3 separate regions of the Homo sapiens genome follow, and regions 1 and 2 are each linked to region 3. The links come from fine-mapping of genetic effects on gene expression. A gene starts in region 3. Each other region holds a variant in brackets. All regions are shown on one strand. Distances are between the middles of the regions. Region 1 holds the start of LOC124900672 (a long non-coding RNA gene). Region 2 overlaps C1QTNF7-AS1 (C1QTNF7 antisense RNA 1). Region 3 holds the start of CC2D2A (coiled-coil and C2 domain containing 2A).

The links. PIP is the estimated chance that this variant, and not a neighbour inherited with it, causes the effect.
Region 1: its variant is fine-mapped to the expression of CC2D2A in whole blood (TOPMed, PIP above 0.99).
Region 2: its variant is fine-mapped to the expression of CC2D2A in whole blood (TOPMed, PIP above 0.99).

What each region holds. Positions count from the first base shown.
Region 1 is chr4:15,506,897-15,515,083 of GRCh38, reverse strand. It overlaps CC2D2A (coiled-coil and C2 domain containing 2A), which reads right to left. Exons shown (of 37, transcript NM_001378615.1): 7 at 4,844-4,945; 8 at 3,661-3,837; 9 at 215-377. LOC124900672 (a long non-coding RNA gene) reads left to right here and starts at 377. Exons shown (of 2, transcript XR_007058062.1): 1 at 377-628; 2 at 6,974-7,472. The variant C/A (reference allele first, on the strand shown) is at 3,862.
Region 2 is chr4:15,416,892-15,425,078 of GRCh38, reverse strand. The region is part of intron 1 of C1QTNF7-AS1 (C1QTNF7 antisense RNA 1); the gene reads left to right. It also overlaps a transcript of C1QTNF7 not described here. Among named protein-coding and RNA genes, the nearest start is that of C1QTNF7-AS1, 6.9 kb to the left of the region's middle. The variant C/T (reference allele first, on the strand shown) is at 4,750.
Region 3 is chr4:15,465,244-15,473,430 of GRCh38, reverse strand. CC2D2A (coiled-coil and C2 domain containing 2A) reads right to left here and starts at 3,549. Exons shown (of 37, transcript NM_001378615.1): 1 at 3,374-3,549.

The sequences.
Region 1 (8,187 bases), 42 kb before region 3:
CTGGTATATCTTCCATTAGTCTATCAATAAGTGTTTGTTGAATGGATATTTTTCCATGTTGTGTTTTTTTTGTTTGTTTGAAGATATTTCTTGATTGTTAGATTAGAAACTGGAATCAGTTCTGGAGATGAGGCATCCTTATACACTAGCCATATTTCATGACAAGGTAAGTGACGATGTCTAAGCTGAACAAGAAAATAAAAAGAGCAAGTACCTGTCTGCCTACTGGGTATGAAGAGCATTTCTCTTTCCATCTGCAGCCGATCATGGATGCTTTCATAATCTGCAGGTCTGACTGCTACAAAATCGTCAGCCACGTGATCTAAGCCCAATAGGAAGTCCTCGGCATCATCACCATTAAGCAGTTCTTCCTCATCCTGCATAATGTTAAAAAGTAACAAGAAAAAATCATGCTAAGATTCTTAGTTAGAAAAATAATTCACAATACCAAACTCATGAAACTTAACATTTCCTACAACTTTATCTTTTCCTTTTTTTAAAAAAGTGAAAGCATAGAACTATATAACCTTTCATATTTAACAAGTGGGTTTTTAAAAAAATTGTTTTGCAGTATTCTGCACACCTGGAAGATGTCAAAATCAGAGATGGCTGTTTCAGAAGAGAAGTGGTAAGCAAAACAATCAAAATCCCAACAAATCTGGCCTCCTATGAGACTGCTTGCTTCTTGCCATTTATGTAAAGAATTGGGCTCATAATTTATGTAGCAGTTTAACCTTCCACCTGGCACTAAACCAAGGGAAAAGGCACCAAGTGTATAGGTGCACAGTCCACACACCCTGTTCAGACTGCCTGGGTTTAAATCCCAGCTTCACCATATACTGCCTGAGGAACTTGAAACAGCTTATTTAACCTTCTGATCCTCAGTTTCCTCACTTATAAGATAGTTATAGTAATGGAGTTTACCTCTAAGCACTTTGTGGGGATAAAATTAAATGATACACTTAAAAATTCAAAGCAAAGAGGCTATAATCACAAATGTTAGCTGACATATATTGATTTTGTTTGGATATTTTCTAAACGTCTTCTCTTCCTTCCTCTTCTTTTTCTTTCTCCTTCTCCTTCTTTTAAAAATTTAAACCTGGTGTCCATTTATGAGCAACATCTTTTAAAATCCTGTGGAGACTTTCAGGTAGCTAAAGACAATGATGGCAGTCTAGCTACCTGCCTCTTAAGATTTCCTCCCCAAGTACACAAAAGAATAAGAAGGAAAAAGGGAATCTATGTAGAAACCATGCTTTTAACTTAACTTGAAGACAGAGAATGCCAAAACATCAAACAAGTGAAAAGAGAAAGATCACCAGATGGCAGTGTGTAATCTTCCTTCTCCTGCCCCACCTCTGCTTCGTGGTGAGCAAAATCACCCAGAGAAAAACTGCAGAGAAGACAGAAAAGGGGAGCTAGCGAAAGGGGCTACAGAGGATCTAAAACTTTGTTCAAAAAGGCTAAATGAACCTTGAAGACGAAAATACTTTAAAAGTGTCTGGGCAGAGCAGAGCATGGACTATAGGGAAGGGCTTCCAAATGTGTGTGATTTAAAAGAGCAGTTTTAGGAACAGAGCTTCTGGGGCAGTGAATAGGCAAAAGGAAGGGAGAAGTGGCCTTTGGAGGAAAGTGCCATAATTTCAGAAGATATTCGCAATTGGAGACTTCTATCTTCAACAGGTGAAGCCCAATTCTCCTCCATTTGAGAGTGCACTACGTCTCGTGACTTGCTTCTCCTGAGTAGAATATGGCAGAAGTGACAGTATGTGGCTCCTGAGACTAGGTCATAAAAGGAACTGTGGCTTCTTTTTTGGGTTCTCCCCTAGATCACTTGCTTTTGGGAAGTTAGCTGTCATGTCAGGAGGACACTCAAGCAATGTTGAATGGCCTGAATGCTGATTTGTAGAATGATTGTTATAGAATAAGCTAAAATATTCCCAAGCTTCTGTAGATCTAGGTAAAAAAAGTACATTTCCGGGAGGCATTTTTCAAGGGAGGAGATTGTAAGTGAAGCACAGAAGTATGCCAATTATGTGAATACTAGAATATCCTAGTGTGTTTTCCTTATTTTTAATGTGGTAAAATATATATAACATGAAGTCCACCATTTTAACCTTTTTTTTTTTTTTGAGACAGAGTCTTGCTTTGTCATCTAGGCTGGAGTGCAATAGCGCAATCTCGGCTCACTGCAACGTCTGCCTCTCGTGTTCAAGTAATACTCCTGCCTCAGCCTCCTGAGTAGCTGGATTACAGGTGCCTGCCACCACACCCAGCTAATTTTTGTAATTTTAGTAGAGACAGGGTTTCACCACGTTGGCCAAGCCTGGTCGTGAACTCCTGACCTTAGGTGATCCGCCCTCCTCGGCCTCCCAAAGCTGGGATTACAGGCCACCGCACCCGGCCCATTTTAACCATTTTTAGGTGAACAGTTCAGTGGCATTAAGTAAATTCATATTGTGATTCTACCCTTACCACCATCCATCCATCTTCCCAGACTGAAATTCTATACCCATTAAACATTCCCTCCTTCCTCTAACCTCTGACAACCACCATTCTACTTTCTGTCTCTATGATTTTGATGATACAATGTAGCTCATATAAGTGAAATCACACAATATTTATTCTTTTGTGACTGGCTTATTTTTCTTAGTGTAATGTCTTCAAGGTATATCTATGTTGTGGCATGTGTCAGAATTTCCATGCTTTCTGCGGTTGTATAATATTCCATTGTATATTTATGTTTATCCATTTATCTTCCGATGAACACTTGGGTTGCTTCTACCTTTTGGCTTTTGTGAATAATGCTGCTATGAACATCGGTGCACAAGTATATGTTCAAATTCTTGTCTTCAGTGTTTTTGGATATATACACAGAGTGGAATTGAATTGCTGGATCATATTGTAAATCTGTGGTTAACTTTTGAAGGACCACCATACTGTTTTTCACAGCAGCTGCACTGTTTTACATGGCTACAAGCAACGCACCAAAGTCCAATTTCTCCATATCCTCTATAACACTTATTTTTTGATAAGCGCCATTCTAATGGATGTGCAGGGGTATCTCATTGTGGGTTTGATTTGCATTTCCCTTATGATGATTGGTGTTAAGAATCTTTTTATGGGCTTATTGTCTATTTGTATGTCTTCTTTGAAGAAATGTCTATTCAATACCTTTGCCCATTTTTAAATGGCTTATTCTCCTTTTATCTCACACATACCACCCACAGTTGCAGAATTTGAGTTGTAGCCTGGGTGTGGTGTTTGGGCACAAAATGCTGCTTACTTTGTAAGGTTGTGGTAAGAGAGAGACCAAGATTTCATTTGCCTTGCAGAGGAACATATTTTGCACATGGAATAAATACTAATCATTACGTGGAGTCTAGCAAGAAAAACCCTCAAGCCACATTATTTAATTCTTTTTTCCACAAAAGAAAAATAAACAGGTTTAATCAAGGTTCTTCCTACCACATTGTAGGGTCTAACCCAGAGCTACAGGGAGCCATGTGAATTCAGTACTTGGGATTTCAACTCAGACGTGGAGTGTCATTCTCCTGGTGGTGGCAGGTTTCTCCTCAGCCACTTTCTTTCTTGCAGGGACATCAGCTTTTTCCTCCTAGCCCTCCACCCACACCTCATTACCATCCTGATATTAAATACCATTTCCTTTCCTCCTCCTTGTGCAGGTGGTTCTTCTTCTTCCCCTTCCTCCTCCTCTTGATTAGTTCCCGCTCTATGTCTTGCTTTTGGTTTTTCCTCTGATCCTTCTGGTTCGGGATCAAAGTTGAAAGTAAAGAAGTTATAGGCCTCTTCTGCAGAAGGGAAGCCAGGTGGAACCTAACGAAAAGCAAGGAGCAATCG[C/A]AATTTCCCATTTATAAGCTGTAATGCGCTCTGCACAATTAACTGACAGCTGGCTTAATGCTAATGAGATCAGGCATATTCCAGGCCTCCGAAGCATATTGTCTTAGTTAAAGGTGTGAGACTACTGGTAATAAACTTTAATATCTGCCACAGGCAGTTGGAGGCCTCCTTTAATAGTAACTCTAATTAGTGACTTTAAAAAACCCCAGCAATTATTTACATTCCAACAAGTAAATACATATTTATAGCAGTAAACACTTTAGATAAGATTATTAAAATGACAAACAGTGGATTTATTGTTTTATTGGCCAATGCTGAGATAGTTTTGTTGTATTATGAGAAATATAGAATTTTTAAACAAATGACCTTTTTTTGTTGTTTCTCTTTTGGAGTTAGTACTCTCCTTTTTTCCTATAATGAAAGCCGGGGCAACTTCAGAGCTGAACAAACTGTCTTATCACCAACATTTCCTGTCTTTCCATGCACTCCCTCATCCTCAAGTCAGGCAATATTCTGATCTCTCCAGTTAGTATGAAAGTTGGAATCACTTCTCATACTTTTTTCTTGCAAACTGCATGGCAACAGGAGTCAGGTTATATATGTAGTCATTTATTTATTTTTAATTAAGAGATGAGGTCTCACTCTGTCACCCAGGCTGGAATGCAGTGGCACAATCATGGCTCACTGCAGCTTCGACCTCATGGGCTCAAGTGATCCTCCCATCTCAGCCTCCCAGGTAGCTTGGACCACAGGTGTGTGCCACCATGTCTGGCTAATTTTTGTATTTTTTGTAGAGATGGGGTTTCGCCATGTTGTCCAGGCTGGTCTTGAACTCCTGTGCTCAATATATCTGCCTGTCTTGGCCTCCCAAAGCGCTGGGATTGCAGGCGTGAGCCACCACACCCGGCCTGTAGTCATGTGTCATTGGATATTTGTAAAAAACACAAACAAACAAATGATTTTAAAAAACAAGATTTCTCACCTGGGGTTTAGGCTTGATTTTTCGTGCAGAATCATGGAACTTGACTCTTGAGTAACTTTGGGAGTCAACTTCTTGTTGAGTCCTTTCTACCTCTTTCCCTGGCTATATGAGTGGAAAAAAATGATAGATAAACCATTTAACCCAAGAAACTTAGGCTGTTCTAAAATGAAGGTTAACCCCCCCATCCCAAAGGCTTATCTTCTGACTGCTGCTGCATCTTATCATTCCTAAGGCATGGAATGCTGGCAAATTTCAAATGCAGTCATGCGCTCCATAGCGACAGCCTGTAGAACTGCATGCATGACGGAGGTCTCATAGACTATAAATACGGTATTTTTACTGTACCCTTTTTATGTTTACATAAAAAAATACTTACCATTGTGTTACATTGCTATGGTATTTAGAAAAGTAACATGCTCTTCAGGTTTGCAGCCTTGGTGTGTAGTTGGCTATGCCATTTAGGTTTGTGTAGGTACCTTCACACAATGGGTTCACACAATGACGAAAATGCCTAAGAACACATTTCTCAGAACATATCCCCATCACTAAGTGATGCATGACTGTATATTTGAAGGTTGATGTTGATATTTTCTTACTCAACTCGTCTCTCTCAAGACTGAACAAATGTAAAATTGTATACTCAATAAGCTTTAAAATGAAAACTGTTGTCCAGATGCAGTGGCTCATGCTTGAACTCCCAGCACTTTGGGAGGCCGAGGTGGGCAGATCACCTGAGGTCAGGAGTTCAAGACCAGCCTGGCAAACATAGTGAAACCCCACCTTTACTAAAAATACAAAGTTTAGCCAGGCGTGGTGGCGGGCGCCTGTAATCCCAGCTACTGGGGAGGCTGAGGCAGGAAAATCCCTTGAACCTGGGAGGCAGAGGTTGCAGTGAGCTGAGATTGCAGCACTGCACTCCAGCCTGGGAGATAGAGCAAGACTCCATCTCAAAAAAAAAAAAAAGTGTTATCTCATCCTATAAATTAAGATTATCCACTTCACAGAGGATCATTTCCAAACAGTCTATAAAGAAAAACATTGATAATGTCTGATTGTAAGTAAGTCCAACACACATCCTCCAGGGTACATGGCCTGTCCTCACTGAACCTCTGGTCCTGCTATCCACCCTGGGAAGCTGAGCCCTCTGTCTCTACTTGCTCTATGTGATAGTTATCATATGGGTATTCCCTTTTGCCTCTGAAAGCTAATCTGCAAGGTGCTGTTTCCAACTTCTTACCCATCTCTCCTTCTAATCCACCCCTTTTAAAACCCAGATACTCCTCCTTTTTCATGAAGCACAATCTAAATGTCAAGCAATTTTGAGCAATTCTAAGCCATCCCAGTAGCACATATAGGTGTTCATGGCAAGAAGGAACATACTTATTCTACCTATGACAGAAACTTGATCATTATTATATGGACAGAGAATTATTTCACAGCATGGAATAACTGTCACCCAACAACAGTCATGTAGTGTGCCATCTTCACTGGGGACCTTCAATATATCCTTCCCAAGTCCTACCTGTTCCTCAAGACCACACAAAGCTACTTCCTTTCTCCATCCTAAAATGAACTCTCTTTTTGGAATCAAATTGTCTGATTCATATCAGGCACTGTCTTGTAGAGCTTGGCAGTTGAAACCATAGGCTCTAAAGTCTGACTGCCTGGCTTTGAATTTTAACTGTACCACTTACAACTTAGGCCACTTGAGTAGAGCATCAAATAAGGAAATGTACATAAAATATAACCAGTCAGGTGCATTAATGGTAGCCATTATTATCATATTACTAGCTTTTTCTTACATGTCTTTTTTTTGGTCTATAGTTTGTATTCATATGATACGACTAAACATTTTAGTTTAGCCCATGGGAAACCAGAGCCTGTGGCAAGGGTTTTTCTGTGCCTGTAGTTGACTCTGAGAAGTGACACCAAAGAACAGGAACTGGGGACTGGGAAGAATAAAGCAGGTGGAAAGTGAGTGCAGGAGAACTTGATTGACAAGGCTACCACTGTGGGCAAGAGAGTTTAACCCACAGGGATCCTCTGAGGAGTCACGTAGACTGCTTCTCAGAATTGTCCACCAGGGACACAGAAGAGGGGAATATTTGTCTAATGGCTTCTGTCCCCCAGGTGGTTGGAGGGGCTCAGAAACAGATGGCCCAAAATATGGTGCTTTGACATGCTGAACTGAAGAAGAAGCCTCAAGTTCTCTCTGACCTCCCCTACCCTGGATGCCAAATTCCCTATCTCTCCTAAAGCACAGGATGAGGTTGTTCTCTGAAGTTCCCTTAGCTGCCTGAGTCCAAACCTGCCAAAGAAGAAAACAGTGACCTTTGGTCCCTCTCCTGAGTGTTCATTAACTGTACCCATATCGCAGGAAGAAAGACTGAAGTCCATCAACACACTTGGACAGACTTTAGTCAAAAACCATTGTCTGCTCTGCGGGCCCAACAGACTTTGTCCGAGGCCACTGTTACGTTCTCCAAGCCCATTGAATTCCCCTAAAAATCATTTTCTACTTGCTAAAATCACCCACACTTCTCCATCTCTCTTTCCTCTAGGATGAAGGGTACGTAATTATCTTTACTCCTTGCACACTAATAAATGTGTATGCCTTTTCTCCTATTAATCTGCCTTTTGTCAGCTGATTTTCAGTGAACTTTCAGAGGGTGACAAGGAAGTGTCCCCTTGGCCTCTACATAGTTGGTGCTTCCAGTCTTGCATATGTGTCAGAATACATGAGTGGGCCTCCGCAAGCCTTCTGGAGAGGAAGGGATACCCTGGAATGAAACCTGGAGGTACAGCTAAAGTGAGGTGCTGTCAAATTTCACTTAGGTGCAGCTAGATGTCCAGTAATGGCCAGAATAAAAATGAGGGTGTCAGTTGGGTATAATCTATCATAATATCAAGCAACTGTATACAGTTTCCTTTTATGTTGAATTCTATACTTCTCCTTCATTTTCTCATTTTGTAGTGTTAAGGTTAAATAGTTATCTACCAACTCAATTGTACAGAAGTTGAAGCTGTGCTAATCAATACATTCCACAATGCAATGCTAAATGAAGTTATTATTTGTCTCAGTATTTTAAATGTTTTTGAGGATGAGGAAAGAAGCAGATGAGTATTACCCAGTGTAAGGATTTTTTTTTCTTTTTTTTTTTTTGAGATGGAGTCTCGTTCTGTCACCCAGACTGGAGTGCAGTGGCATGATCTCAGCTCACTACAACCTCTGCCTCCCGCGTTCACGAGATTCTCCTGCCTCAGCCTCCTGAGTAGCTGGGATTACAGGCACCCTCCACCAAACCCGGCTAATTTTTTTTTTTGTATTTTTAGTAGAGATGGGG
Region 2 (8,187 bases), 48 kb after region 3:
CATCCTGTTCTTTTATTTATTACTTCATCACTTATTTATTTAGCTGCTACTATATGTCAGATGCTGAATGCTTGGTCTGGGTATTCAGTAGAGAGCAAACAAAGAGACCTTGTAGAGACAAAATCTAGTGAGGAAGAGAGATATTTATGAAATAATCACAGAACTGTGCTTAACAGGATATGAATTGGGAATTCCCATCCACTTGGAATTTCAGCTGAGAACACAAAGCAGAGAATGATAGGCAACCAATGCTCATACATCGACTTAGAACTTGTTAAAATCCAGCTGGATCTGACAGTGACCATCAGCCATTTTCAGTCCACATAAAAGAAAGCTAGAAATTCAGAAAAGATTAGTGGTTGAAGAGAGGCATCAAGGTAGAGTTGTGGAGAAGGGAGAGGAGTGCAGGGGCAGCTGTTAGAGAGGCAAGAATATATGCACTCCCCAAGAGGGAGATGGTACTGAGGAAGGCAGCTGAGTGGGGCCATCGTGATGGGACTTCCTGAGCCAAGGAGTCCTCCTAGTGGGGGGAGGCCACTAAGAAGTCACTGGGTGTATCACTGAGTACAGAATCTGAGGCTGGTGGGGGGAGCACTGCAAGCTATCAACCAAGGAACACCTTCACCCCGAAAGAGCCAGCATTTGGCTACCTGGAGTGCATAGCAGACATTGGAGCCAGGAGAGGATCATACAAGTAGCACTTACTAAGTAAGAATAATTCAGTCACTTTTTTCCTGATTATTCTACTCTCTGACCTGACTCAAGAGGAGCTGAAAGTGAAAGGAAGTGGCAGGAGATGGGGGAAGAGTGAAAGGGTACAGCATATCCTGAACTACAGCCATGGAGATGGACAAGTATTGTATTGGATATAAAATAGAAAATTTGATTGAGATTTGTCTTTTTAATATCTGAAAATGAGTCACAATTGACTAATAAAATTGTTCATGTAACTGGAAGTTACCAGAAAGCCAAGAAATTTGCCTGAGATGTCATAAAAGGGCAGGGAAGAAAGATCCAACAGAATTTGGCTAGAACAAATGATGGAAGAAAAATGAGGTTATTTTTTATTCATTTCATATTAAGGACAGTTAATACCATTTGATAAACTCAATAAGTTTTGGAGAATGCTTGAAGGAAAAAAATAAAGGATATTGTGGAGTGTTTAGCCGGACAACCCAGTTGAATCTTGCCTAAAGAACTTGCCTAAATAAGAGAGAACTTGCCTAAAGGAATGACATCTGACCTAAAAGGGGGGGAAACGGTAGGCATGAACCTGGCAGAAGGGCAGGAAAACACATCCAGGCTGAGAGAATGTCATATGCAAAGGCCCTGAGGTGGAAGAGGATGATGCTGAGTGGAGGCCAGTGGGAAAGAGCAAAGGCAGGCATAAGCCTGCAGGGAGGATGTGCCTGGGCCAGGCGGGGCTCTGTTGGCCACGGGAGGTTTTGGTCCTTATCCTGGGGTCAGTAGGTTCCTCAGAAGGGCTGTGAGTGGGATTTCATGAACCAGGCTGTTGACCAGGTAGAGGTGGTGCCTGCTGCCGCTTTCCTGGCTTTTCAAGCGGACTTCAACCAGCTGAAATGACTCAGTTTGGTTTCTAAACTGAATCTGCTTTCATTGCAGGGAAAGAGGTGGGTTCTTATGAGAAAAGGAGTTTGCATATTTAAAAAAGGCAATTCAGTGACTCATGGAATGAACAAATGTCATTGACCCCTGTGTGTGCCAGGCACTGTGCTGGGCCCTGAACATACAGCTTGAAAGCGAAGACAGGATCTCAACTCACAGTTCTTACACTGCACTGGGAATTTCACACTGTTAGAGAAGAAGGGATCTCAGAGGTTATCTGCTTGAGTTTCCTGTTTCACAGATAAAAAGCCAGATTCAGTAAGAAGTGACTTGCCCAAATAACCTATTTATGCTAAACCAGAACTGGAACTCAGGTCCCTGCAGGGTGGCCAAAAGAGTCTTTGCTCTACAGCCTTCACTGATACCTGGTTTCTACTTCACATGTAGAAGACAATCCAGTGTTTTAATCTACATAAATATCCATCCTTGTGGATAAATGTGAATTAACAATATAGCATTATCCCAGATCATAATACTTTACCTTGTCCAAAATATCACTTCTCATATTTTAAAACGTAAAAAACTTAAAAACTTATAGAAAGTTGGCCAGACGTGGTGGCTCATAACTGTAATTCCAGCATTTTGGGGGGCTATGGTGGGAAGATCGCTTGAGACCAGCCTGGGCAATATGGCAAAACCCCATCTCTACAAAAATAAATAAATACATAAAAAAGAAATAAAAAACCAGCCATTGCTGGAGTGCATGTATAGGCACATCTACTCAGAAGGCTGAGGTGGGAGGATGGCTTGAGCCCGAGATGTTGAAGCTGCAGTGAACCATGTTTGCACCACTGCACTCCAGCCTAGGTGACAAAGCAAGACCCTTTCTAAAAAAAAAAAATTATCGAAAGTTTTAAACATATTAAAAAACAGAGATCAAGTAGATAATGAATTTCCATGTACCCACTGAGCTATTTGGAAATTTAGCATTGAATGGACAGGAAATAATATTAGATGAAATAATGTTAGGTTAGGGTAGATATTAGATGAGAATGCATTTTCCCTGATCCTTTGGTCTTCAGGAGGAAGGATTTTCCAAGTAAGCTCTTTTCCTTCCTCACCTCTTGATTTATTCTGCCCTGGGGAAAATAGGATGAATTATCAGATAGGCAAATATGAAAAGAATAACTAGGCATGTTCAGGTCAATGAACTGGAGATAAAAAATCTGCCAAATCCCAAGGAATCTGGATTAAGAAGCTCCTTTGCTGTCATATCTGTGCAATATCCTTTTTTTTTTTTTTAAAAAAAAACAGGTTTATTAGATTATAATTATTAAAATGTAAAATTTACCCTTTTGGTATTAATAGTTTCGTGATTTTTGGCCAATGTATGCAATTGTATAACCACCACTAAAAAAGAGATACAGAGCATTTCCATTCCCTCCAAAATGTTCCCTTATGTCCCTTTGTAGTCAGTCTCCTCCACCCCAGCTGCCTGCAACCTCTGATCATATATCTGTCCTGTAATTTTGCCTTTTCCAGAGTGTCATATAAATAGAATCTTACAATATGTGGGTTTTTGAGGCTCTGTTCTTTCACTTAACATAATGTTTTTGAGAGTCATTCATGTTGCATGTTTCTTTCATTGCTGAATAGTATTCCATTGTACGGTTGTACCACAAATTTTAAATATCTATATCTATATATTTATTAACCATCTACTATGTGCTACCTACAGTGAGTCCTGACCACTTAGCGAAGTAGGTATTATTATCTCCTTATTACAGGTGTGGAAACTGAAGTTTCTAAATGAGAGAACTGGCCCAAGGTCACACAGCTACTGAGTGATAGATTTGGCATTCAAACCCAGATTTGTCTGACCTTCAAACCAAGCTCTCGGTTTAGGATGAGGAGAGTGATAGTACTTGGCTCCTTGGATTGTTGTAAAAATTAATTGAAATAATCCCCAGAAAATGAGTCCCTGTTGCCTGGCACTTCGTGGGTGCTCCGTAAATATGAAGTGGGTGAACAGTGCTGACATAGCTGCCGCTGCTCTTACCATTGACCTTTGGCTACTGTTCTTTGGTAAGTGCCATTGACTATCCTGGGTTCTCTATGCTCCTCTTGTTTGCACCTGAAAACCATCCGAAGGCCAGAGACCTGGAAGCAATGCCTCCACTCAATGATGCAAACCACTCCAGCCACAGAATGTTGAGAGTGTCTTTGTGACATTATGTAGGCATAAAAATAGTGGTGATTGTAACAATATTGTGCTAATACCTTACATTTATTATTTAGTAGAAAAAGCTCTTCAACTCTCTTTTTTTTTCAGTCATCTCGGTCTATTTGAACATTTTGGTGTTTCTAAACGTTTATCCGGATAATGGGGGGCCCATGTTCTCTACTTTGTTTATTGCTAAAAACATGTGAGGCATTTTGTGGGGAGGGTGCCTGAGGACATGAGCCAAGTTCAGGGTCAAGAGCTATATTAGACCCAACAAAGGCAAAGATTTAGCGGCAGGTGGTGCCTCTTGCATACATATTCACTTCCAGCCAAAACAATGTCCTCAGCAGACTCCATCACATTGGAGCGAGAGCTGGGAAATCCAACAATGACTCAGTGTGCTGGGGAGGAAAGCTGAGCACTGAGGTTTGGTAAAAAAAAAAAAAAAAAAAAAAAAAAAAAGACAAAGCAGTGGAATGTTACCCTAGAGTCTAAACTAGCAGAAATCTTCATGTCTTCTCCCTTCCCACTGACATTTCTTTGTGGAGTAAGACTGCTGACTTTGAAGGACAAAGTCATCATTGTCCAGCCATGTGACCTTGGGCAAATTGCCTTGGGCAAAAGACTCTGAGGATTACCCCTCTGAAACCTTAGTGTTCTCTTCTATAAATTGAAATTTTAAAAATATCCAAATGAAGTAAGGTTGTTATAAAGTTTGATGAAGTAATGCATCTTGTTGACTGACACATTTGTGCTACTCAAACTCAAAAAATGTTGATTTCTGTTGGTGCAGGGAGGAGCAGATTTAAGTTAGAGGCATTCCTTTTTCTTTCAATAGTGTTTAGAGTTTACGTTCTTGTTGGGACTAGGAAATGCATGTCTTTGGATGCACTTTAGATCTGTGTTTTCAGGATAATCTCATCTACGTGATCAGAAACACTCTCCTTAGGGACTGAACT[C/T]CTAAGCAATTTCTTGAAAACTGAAGGTTGACTGTAAGGTGTCTGAGAAAATAAGTGCCAGGATGGAATAAGTAGTTTTTTCATGGAGAGCTAATGGTTTCAGTGAAAGCCTGGCATTGAGAGAGAACAAGGCACCTTGGAGAGTGAGAAAGCTGGGGAGGCTGGAGAAGAGTGAGGAGGAAGAAGGATGGGGGGTGGAGCCCGTTGCGGAGGCTGTGGATATTGAGGCTAAAGCTTTCTTGGGGAACTTAGACTTTATCTTCAGGGCATTAAGAAGCCAGTGAAGAGTTTGCCAGTGATGAGAATCGTATGTGACTCCTATTAATAGATAGATTTCTTGGACTGCTATCTGGAGAAAGGATGGGAGGCAGCAAAAATGAAGCACACTTGGGCAAAGATAGGTAAGAAAACCACCCCACCACTGGCAAGGATTCTAATATAGTGGGATTCTAGAAGATTAGGCACAGATTTGGTTTGTTTGGTTTTTGTTTGGCCGTGTGTGTGTATGTTTGTGTGTGTGTGTGCATATATGTATGTGATTTCCTTCTAATATTTTTCCTATTCATAGTATATACACTTTTTGATCAAAATACATATGCTATTTTTTTAACCTCATATATTATCTATTCTTGTCCTATGGAACTATTTGTATTTTATTTTAAATATACGCTCACGAAATATCAGGAGGAAAAGGTAGGAAAACAAGAGTAAATCATTATTTATTTAGTTCTATTTCTCAGAACTATACCACTGTTACCACTTTAGTTTCTTTCTTTCTGTTATTTTTGTTCTCTCTGTGTATGCATAGGTCTTCTGTTCAAAGATTTGTAATAGTACCTATACACTGTTGCTGTGTGCTTTTTCTTTAACCTAATATTATATCATAAGTGTTTTTCCCCTGTTATGTTTTGGAGCCATTAATGGCCAAACGATATCCATCAAGTAGTTGTACAATAATTTATTTAACCCCCTTCTCTCCTATTAGGGGACAATTAAGCTGTTTCTATTTTTTCCTAGTATAAATGAGATTACATTGAAAGTTTTGTGCATAAGCCTTTATCCCTATTTAGGATTATTTCCTTAGGATAGATTCCCAGAAATGGAATTATTGGATCAAAAGGTCTGTATGTTTTATGTCTTTTTTGGTACATGCTGCCAAACTGCTTTCCAAAAGGTTGTGTGAATTTACACTGCCTTGTCCCTGTATAAAAACAAAATCCTGGGGAATGTAAGTTCCCCCACAGCCAGGCACCTTTTGTCCCTGGAACACAGACGGAGCCACAGAATCTCAGATTTGGAAGTAACTTTAAAGGTTAGTGAAGCTAACCTCTGCTGTGAAGAGAACGTCAAAGCTTGTTCCACAATGGTATTGGCATTTGTGCCATTTTTGTGTTGGGTGGCATCTCAGTGGTCATTTTGCATAAATGCCCCCAATTCCCTACACAGTCTCAGCCAGGGGCTCTGGGCAGACTCTGTGCTGAGGGCTCTGCATACACCAACTCAGTCTTTCTACAACCACAGGAGAAGGTTACTGTTATTATTCTTTGCATTCTTCAGATGGAAAAACAGGCAGAAGAGGTAAATAACTTGCCTGAGGCCATGTGGTCTTAGGACACTTAACTACTGTATTTTACTACCTCTTTTTAGTAAATACCTATATAACTAAAGAGAGATAAGCACTACAAAGGAGAAGAGGGGTTGGTGAAAGAGATTGAAAAGAGTGCCTACTGTGGTTTGGGAGATCAGCGAAAGTCACTCTAAGGATGAGATACCTGGGGATACCTGAGGATGACTTAGCCAGGTGAAGATGGGATAAAAGCCTCACAGGGAGGGAGAACAGTATGTGAGAGGGCCCTGGGGCAGGAGAGGACTTCGGGAATTATAGTAACTGAAAGGACAATGGGTTGGAACTTATAAGACAAAATGGCCTGTAAGAAAGGAGGTCAGAAAAATAGTAGGGGTCAAGTCATTTCAGGGCCTGAAGAGGTTGGCTTTTATCTTAACAGCAATGGGGTTCCATGAGAGGGTTAGAGGAGAACATGATCTTTGTTGTGCATAAAACGATGATGGAGAAGGTATTAGAGAGGGCTGGGGAGGGGAGGTGGGAGCAAGTTGGGAGGCTGATGCAGCTGAGTGGGCAAAGATGATCATGGCTGATCACTGTGGCTACAAAGGATAACGAGAGAAGTGGAGAGATTTTCAACAAACTTTTGTTTAAGAGCTGATGGGTAAGATGTAGCCTCTTACAGGAAGCCTTTTGGGCACTTGTCCATGCGGGCTCATCCTGACGAACCTTCTCTCTGGTCCCATGGTAATCCCCAGTGTTGGAGATGGGGCCTGGTAGGAGGTGTTTGGGTCATGGGGATGGATCCTTCATGAATGGCTTAATGTTGTCCTTGCAATAGTGACTGAGTTCTTGAGAGATCTGGTTGTTTAAAAGTATGTGGCACCTCTTCCCTTCTCTCTCCCACTTGATCCATGTGGCCCATTTCCTCCTTTGCTTCCCGAGGCTCTCACCAGAAGCAGATGCCAGCACCATGCTTTTTATACAGCTTGCAGAACTGTGAGCCAATTAAACCTCTTTTCTTTCTTTCTTTTTTTGAGATGGGGCCTTTCTTGATCATGGCTTACTGCAGCCTTCAACTCTTGGGCTAAAGCCATCCTCCTACCTCAGCCTCTCAAGTATCTGCAATCACAGGTGTGTGCCACCATATTTGTAGAGACAGGTTCTCACTATGCTGCTCAGACTGTTCTTGAACTCTTGGACTCAAGTGATCCTCTTGCCTTGGCCTTCCAAAGGCATGGAATTACAGGCATGAACCACTGTGCCTGGTCTCAACCTCTTTTCTGTATAAATTATGCAGCCTCAGGATCTCTTTATAGCAATGCAAGAATAGACTAACATAGTCACATGTTTCATGAGTCATTTTATATTAAATGTTCAGAATAGATAAATCCATAGACACAGAAAGCAGATTGATAGTTTTCAAGGGCTCAGGGGAGTGAGAAATGGGGAATAGCTGCTTAGTAGTATGGGGTTCTCTGCTGAAGTGATGAAAATGTTTTGGAACTTGATATAGTTGGTGGCTGCACAAGATTGTTAATGTTCTAAATGCTGCTGAATTGTACATTTTAAGGTGGTTCATTCTACATTATGAGAGTTTCATTTCAATAAAAAAATTTTAAAAGTATACATGGGAATGAAATGCACTAGTTTCAGGTCCTCATTTGTTAACTGAAGGACAGAGAAAGAATAAAAGGTGGGTATTTAGCTAAATTTATAATTTTTTAAATTTCTTTATAACATAAAAGATCTGGAGGAAAAGAAAAACTATCACTACTTGGGCTATCCCTGAAAAATCTTTTGTATAGGGAAATAAAGCTAAGACTAGAGAGAATGCAATAGACAAGCAAGAAGGTAGTGTTGGCTGTTGGCTG
Region 3 (8,187 bases):
GCATGGCTCTTGCTGTTTCACTTTCTTCAGGTCTCAGCTGAAATTTTATTATCAGAGAGCTCTTCTCTGACCATTCGTAATACAATGATCTCCTCCCAACACCCTCCTGGAATTCCCTAACTACCTTACAATGATTTTTTCACAGTACTTATTACCACTCAACATACATACTTACTTGTTAATGTCAGCCCATATCCATTAGAATATAGCTGCAAGAGGGCAGAAACATTATTTTGTTTATTGTTTACCCCCAGAGACTAGGATTATGGGACATCATGGACATTCAATATATACTTGTCGAATGAATGATTAAGTCACTGACTTATTGGCTGTGGTTCCATAGCCACATTCTGGGACTATTTAAAGCTCCACTGTTTCTTCTAGGCTGCTGTGAGGATTAAATGAGAAAACACATGGAGAAACAACAGGCATATGGCTGACAAATCATAAGCCCTTTCTAATATCCTTGGAACCCAAATCTTAACTGGGACTTGGTCAGGTCATTTAAGCAGCTCATCTGAGATCAAGGTTTCACTGACCCTACAGGGGAATTAGCATGTTAAAGGGAAATAAAGCATCTGAAATTCTATTGTCTTCTCTACAAACCTCATCACAGGGTACAAAAAATAGAGGAAGGAAAATGTAAAAGCAGCTAAGAAAATAGAGAGGCAAGGAGATAACCTAGAGTGAATGAGGGGGCAGATAATAAAGATGAAATGCAAAAGTACATGAGAGCTCTCTAATGAACAACTCTGGTCATTGCAAACTGAAAAAAAAAAAAAACCTGTGAAACATTTTAGTAACTAAAAAAAGTTCTCTATAAGTTAATAAATGCTTTATATGGAAGAAAAAAATAGAAGTAGAAAATGAAAAATGTAATGGGATTTTCTTTTTTCCTCATTCTTTCCTGATCATTTCCTTTAAATGAGTTTCTAAGGAAATCAAATGACACCGAAATTTATTTTTTATATGAACACTGTTGCTAAGAAAAGATAAATCAATACTGCCTGGTTTTAATATGCAGTTTGCCATCATCTTATGCACTGGTACTTGTTAATATATTCCTACTGGCAACATCAAAATAGCTATGATTTACTGCACACTTATTTTGTGCTAACTATAGACATGTTCTCTTTAGTCCTCACAATAACATGTCTGGCTTAGTAGTATGTGCCCCAATTTGCGTATGAGTAAACTGAGGCTCTGACAATTTACATGATTTTTCCAAAGTTATAATTATTAAATGTCACATTCAGAACTTGATCCCAAGACTCTGTGATTCCTGAGTCCTCCCTCACTCCACTCTACCCCTCCATCTCACCATTTATTCTTGCTTTTGCAATGGCATCAATAATTATTCTGTGCTTTCCAGAATAGTGGGCTATTCTGGAAATATTTACAGTTGAAAGCTGTGAAGCATTGCACTGGTGAGAAAAGGCTTAGGCTACATTAAGCCAATGATTTATTTTACTCAGTGCAGAAAACCAGATATATTTTTTCAAGGAAAGTACTGACACCTTCATCTGAATAAATGGACTATTCCTAAGAGTCATCAGTGGGTCAGAGCCATACCTGGAGGTTGAGATACAACGCATCTCAACTCCATATTGGTTGCTTAAAAAATCATACAATATATATGCCCTACTCCAGGATGGCAAAAACATGGGTTTATAGGAAGAGTGGTCCACATATTTCTTTGCCAAGGAATATGTGGACCTGAGTTCCAACTTCAGCTTTATTTATTAGCTGTGTGATCTTGGAACAATGCCCTCCCTTCTCTGAGACACGTTTTTTTTTTTTTTGTCTGCAACATTGCAATCATACTTCCTACCTTGAAGGATGATTAATTTATAAGGGCTAAATGATGAAATGTGTGTAGTAAAATGCCTAGCACAGGCTGGGCTCTCAATATTGGTAGGTTTTGTTACTAAGAAAAAGTGATTGTGGGGAGGGAAAGTGGAAAAAAGGAATGAGGAGGGAAAAGAGCTTGGGGGATAGAAGAGGAGTCATGAGAAAGACCTTAGGTGATGTTCAAGCCCACCCACCTTCAGCTCCAATCTTCAACCCCCAGCTACCATAACTCATGTTTCATGTCTCCCTCCCTTCAGCCAGGCCCAGGGCAGTTGCCTTGCTGTTTCCATTTATGGTGCTTCTGAAACCTCCTGCACTTCTACCCATGAGTATTTTCTTCCTCACACCCTGAGAACATTTTTCTGTTCCCTCCTGGAGCTTGGACACCTGGGGAGGTGCCACATACATTGTTTTGGAATACATTATCTTATTCTACAAGTTATTCCAGCTGCAGTTTCCCTTAGCATAAGGTTAGTGACCAATAGCTTTATAGAATCATTTAATCAGCTCGATATAATGTACACTGGCCTTGAAGAGTACACATGAGTACCATATTTGAGCTGTGTTACGTGATATATGACCAGTGCATTTACATGATGTGCTAAGTACTGGAAGCCCCTCCCTGGATGTCATCCCACTGTCCTCTCAGTGTTTTTATAAATCTCTTATGGCACTTAGCTCATTGTACTCTTATCATGTGTTTATAGGTCTGTTTTCCCAGCAAATTCTGAGCTTCTGACCTAGTCTAATTTATGTTTGCACACTCTAAACTTAAATTCATTGCCTGGTGCATTGTTGATGCTCCATAAATGTTTGAATGAATGACTCTATAAGTGAGCTCTAGGATATATATATATATATATATATATATATATATATATATATATATAGAGAGAGAGAGAGAGAGAGAGAGAGAGAGAGAGAGAGAGATTTCATGCTGGTGCTGAATTTATTTGCAGAAAAGGTTATATGAAAATGCAGTAGCAAACATATTTCTTATTTGACTTTATTAGCTTTTCATACCACCTCTTTGCAATGAAGGGAAACAAACAATCAGCTTAAGTTGTAGCCAGTACATTTTCTTGAAGTCTTTGGAAAGCACAGCAACTCTTAGCACTGTGGTTAGTAGCCCTTTCTCTGTCTCATACCAAGAAAAGTGTATTTTGCAGTAATTAGTGCTTCTCCCCTTAAGCCAGTTTGAACTAAAAGGCCCATAAATGCAACACGCAGCTAATGTTTCACAGAGCTTTGGTCAGAGAGCATTTTCACTCAGGACTTGTGATGAACTGGACTTACATTTCCTGCAAACCAGATACCAGATAGCAGCTCAAATCAAAGCTGCCAAGTAATGGTCTATGTTCCCATTTCAGAAAGTAAAAACATAAATAACGATGAGAGCCCCTAAATTTACAATTCATTAAATCCAGTCTCACGGTATCCTGGAGAGGCTGAACTTCAAGCCGGGTAACTGAAAACAGGAAATCACTGTTGCAGCCTAAAGTCCGGTTAGGGACTGATTTACCTTAAGAAACTTTACAAAAGGCACTTTGCAGATTCTGCATTCTAGGATGGAAGTGGAGAGAGACGGTGCTGTTGAATCTTTTAAAAGGGTCCGGAGGGAAAGGCTGAGTGTTGGAGATGCCCCTGGGCTCCTCCCTGGGAAGCTGCAGCCATGTCTTGGAGCAAAAACACCAGCTTAGCAACCCGTTCCTAAGGAAGGTCACTCGGTAGCTTTTTTTTTTTTCCTTTAAAGTGACAGGCTACTTCCAGTAGTGGAGTACAAGCATGCTGGGTAAGCAGAGACGCACAGCCTGCAGTAGAAGGACGGAGAGAAATCAACATGAGCAGCACTGGAAATTAGGTCAAGCCTTAAGAGCTGCCCCTCCCTCATGTCATCCGGTCGTCTTGCATTTCCAATGAAGAACAGGCTCAGAGGTGGGGGGATTTAGAATCTTAAAAGGTCGTCATTACATGGTGAAGCTGTCTAACGTGGCAGCAGCAAAAGCTCTGTGGAGGTGCTGCAGAGTACCAACAAATGTTGCACTTGAGTGTTTTCCAGTTAAAAGTGGAAGGTTGAACGCACAAGTTTAATCTTTGCCTATTCTCTGAATCCCACTGCAATTCCTGAAAACGGATATAAATGTTATGGCTCAAAAAAGTTGGAAAAAAAAAAAGAGGGAGAGGTAGGAGGCAAAGTAGCTGGAAGAGTAATAGAATGAATGGAGCCAAGGAAACACACTCCAATAGACTAGTGTGTATGTGCACATGTGTTTGTGTGTATTTGTGTCTGTGTGTATGGTGTGTGTATGTTTGTGTGTATGTGTATTGACTGTATCTTCTTATTTTCTGTATTCTTGATGCTCTGGCATTTGGAGCCTTGATCCTGGAGAAACTGATTCTCCTATGTTAGCTAATTTCTAGAGATAGCAAATGATTCCCCTGAAATATGCAAAGTCTCCTTTGATATACAAGCCAACCAATCCAGAGCCCACACAACCATCTCCATTATCAAACTCTCACACACTAAGCCAATATTCCTCCTGTCCTAAGTCACCCCAGGTCCAGATACCAGACCACTATAGCCCAGAGAACACCACGATTATTCAAGCTATCCACTCCTAAATTTATGCAGCACCCTACCCTGCTTCACCTATTCCTTCCTGGGAAAACCCTAGTAAAGGCTCTGTGCTGTACTCTGCTGTCTCCGTTCTGCCTTCTGACCAACATTGGTTCTTCCCTATGTGGTCCTGTGTGGCATGCCATGTTCTATGATTTGAATGTGTCTTCCCAAAAGCATGTATTGGAAACTTAATCCCTAACACAATGGTGTCGGGAGGTGGCACCTAATGAGAGGCAATTAGGCTGTAGGGCTCTGCCCTCATAAATGCATTAATGCCATTATTGCAGGAGTGGATTCCTTATAAAAGAATGAATTTGGCCTCGTTTTCTCTCTTTCTCTTTCTTGCTCTCATGTTTTCTTGCCTTGCACCATAGGATGGTGCAGCAAGAAGACCCTTGCAGGATGCCAGCCCCTTGATCTTGGACTTCCCAGCCACCAGAACTGTGAAAAATAAATTTCTGTTCATTATAAATTGCCCAGTCTGTGTATTCTGTTACAACAACAGAAAACGAACCAAGACACCATGCTTCTTGTTTCTAGGGATCTGTTAAGTATAAACTTCTTCTTTTGTGCCAATCATGTTTGTGTCTGTGTGTCTTACCATACCTAATTAAAACAAATCCAGAGTACATTTTTTGACACAGCCTGCATGCATGTGTATGTGTCAATGTATTTGTGTTTGTGTCTCTGTACGTGTATGTATGTGTGTGTGTGTCTGTGTATGATGGGGTGTGCACGTAGGCATGAATATGAGGAAATGAGCTGATTTACTGTGCCAGGATTTGGGGCAGCAGTGTTATAGCTGAATTGTGTTCTCTCTCATCCCCAAAGATGCTGAAGTCCTAACCTCAGTATCTCAGAATGGGACCTTATTTGGAGATAGGGTATTTACAGAGGTAATCACATTAAAATGAAGTCATTAGAGTGAGATCTAATCCAAGATGATTGCGTCCTTACAAAAGGGGAAATTTGGATTCAGAGACAGACAAAATAGAAGAAAGGCAACGTGAAGACATGGGGAGAGCACCATCTCCAAGCCAGGGAACACTCAAGGCTATCAGCAGCCAGGAGAGAGGCCTGGAACAGACTGTCTCTTGAAGCTTCACAAAGAATCAACCCTGCCACACCTTGATTTCAAATTTCTAGTCTCCTGAATTGTTAGAAAATTTCTGCTGTTTAAGCCACTCAGTGTGTGGTACTTTGTTACAACAGCATCAGGAAACTAATACAACCATAGACTAAGGAAGGTGGGGAGAGATACGGGGCTAAAAATGCAGGAAGATTTGAAAGTCTGTATATTAAGGGATTGATCCTCAGGATCCTTTTTCTTGGCAGCCTGAAAAATGCCCATTCCTCAGGCATAATTTCCGTCCTCCACATCTGCCTCATCTGCTGCTGCCCAAAGGAGACTGGCGGTTTCTTTTCTAGGGAAGTTAAACCAGAGACTCTCTGGTCTCAAGTTCCCAGGTACTGCAGCAAGTGAGTGTGTCTCAGGATTGAAAACTGTATATGAAATGAAGATGTTGCAGGGCCCTTTCTGAACCTTTCTCAAGAACTTAGACAATCAAGAACATGCCATTGGCTCCCCCATCCTACCTCTACCTGCACAAAACTGGAGAAAGTAGAAAATTATTTTCTGGAAAAACTGAATGATTATAAAGCACAGACCCTACATACTGACATTTCTGGATCCTCCAATGACAAAGCTAGCATATTGCCCTTACAGAAAAGCATTACAAAAAACATTAAAGGATCTCAGGCTAGGAAATTTAATGCTTGTAGTTATAAAAAGAGAGAACCATGAAAATGGAAAAGTATAATTTACCAAAGGAGTAATACAAGAACAACTGTATGAAATAATGTATTTTCCAATTGAAGGGGACAATCTACTATCTCGTGCTGGTAAAAGAAGACAATAAGAAAACTTGTCTGTCTTGGCTTGTATTCTGCATGTGGTGAGAAAAATATGAAGAATTTACAACCATTGGTTTGCACCATGCAGTTTGTCTTATTTATGCTCCTTATATATTTTAGGAGGCCCCTAAGTGATAACTTTTAAAAAGTGGCCTCTGTCTACTGTATCCCCGTGGGGTGCCAGGCAGAAGTTATTACAAAACTTTTCTGGAGGAACACACCTTCAATTGGACAATTCAGGATGTCCACAAATAAACACAGAGGAAGATGAGCTCACAACCCAAAATTAGACAACAGAAGAGAAACACTCAAGAGTCCACAGACAAACCAGAGGACACTATTAGATACTCAAGAGTTTCTTGCAATACAATAATCAGATGGAGAGTGGAAAAATAACAATGACCAAATATTCAAGAAGATACAAGGAGGATTTGAAAATATGAAAGAAGAGTGAGACACTATCAAAAAGATCAGACAAATTCAAAAAGTAACCAGATAGAACTTTTAGAAATAAATAATACAGTCACAAATTTAGATAAAAGTCAAAGAATGTGCTAAACTGTAGATGAGAGAGCTGAAGAGATGCAAAAGATAGGTTTAAAAAATTGAAATGTGGCACAGAGATATTGAAAATAGGAAAGAGTAGGTAAAAGATACAGGGAGAAATTGATGAGGTCCACCATATCCAGTACAGTACCAGAAGGAGAGGAGAGAGAAAGAAGTTGAATGCTCTGTCTTACAACTGAGGGATCTCGGTCAACTTTCTTAACCTTTCTAGGTTTCAGTTTCCTTCTCTGTAGGAAACTGAGGTTTAATAATAGTAACTATTCCAGAGAGAGTTGTTAGGAAATTTGTTAAGTTAATAATTGTGAAGCACTTAGGACAGTCCTGGCACATAGTAAATGTTGCAAGGTTTATTAAGTGAAGAAAAATATGAATGTTTACCGTAAGAGATTATCTACTTGAAATGGTCAGCTGCCATGAGAGGAAGGACTTGTTCACCACTCTTTTGCTAATTAACCGTCTGATTATTACCTCCCTGATATTTTAAAAGTCTCATGGTCTGCCAACAGAGCTAGCTGGGCACGTCCTCTTTGATCTTTAATACTGAACTAATTCATAAGAATCATACAACTTCTTAAGTTCCAAAAATATTAAAAAGTATCATTGCAAAACACCATTACTTGCAAAAGTTCTTATGTAAGCAAAATAAATGAATCTAGCAAATTTATTTTAAATCATAACACAAAAATCTCATTCTTTTGGTTAAGTGTTCCTAGTTGGCTAAAGAGTTTTTCATCAAGAATAAATGTTGAATCACATTATCACAAGCTTTTTTCTACATCTTTTGAGATAATTAAATATTATTTTTATTCTTTCATCTATTAGTGTAGAGAATTGCATTATCAGGCATTTTAATGTCAAATTGTGCTTGCATTCCTGGGATACACTCAATTTTGTCAAGATACTTCAAAAATTAATATTGGATTTAATTACCACTTTCTAGAAATTTTTGCATTTATGTTCTTAGCTGAGATCAGCCTTGTATTGTTCTTGTCTCATTTTAGGATAAAGGATAGTCTAACCTCAAAAAAAAAAAAAAAAGCAGACTAATATTTCTCTCTCACTCATCTTTGTAACAGTTCAAGTAAAAATAGCTTTATCATTTCTGTGAAGTCTATACAATTGTCTGGGTCTAATAAGTTTTTTAAAAATTATGGTAAAATGTGTATACATGAAATTTGCCATTTTACCCATTTTAAAGTGTATAATTTAATAGTTTTTAACACAGTTGCAATGTT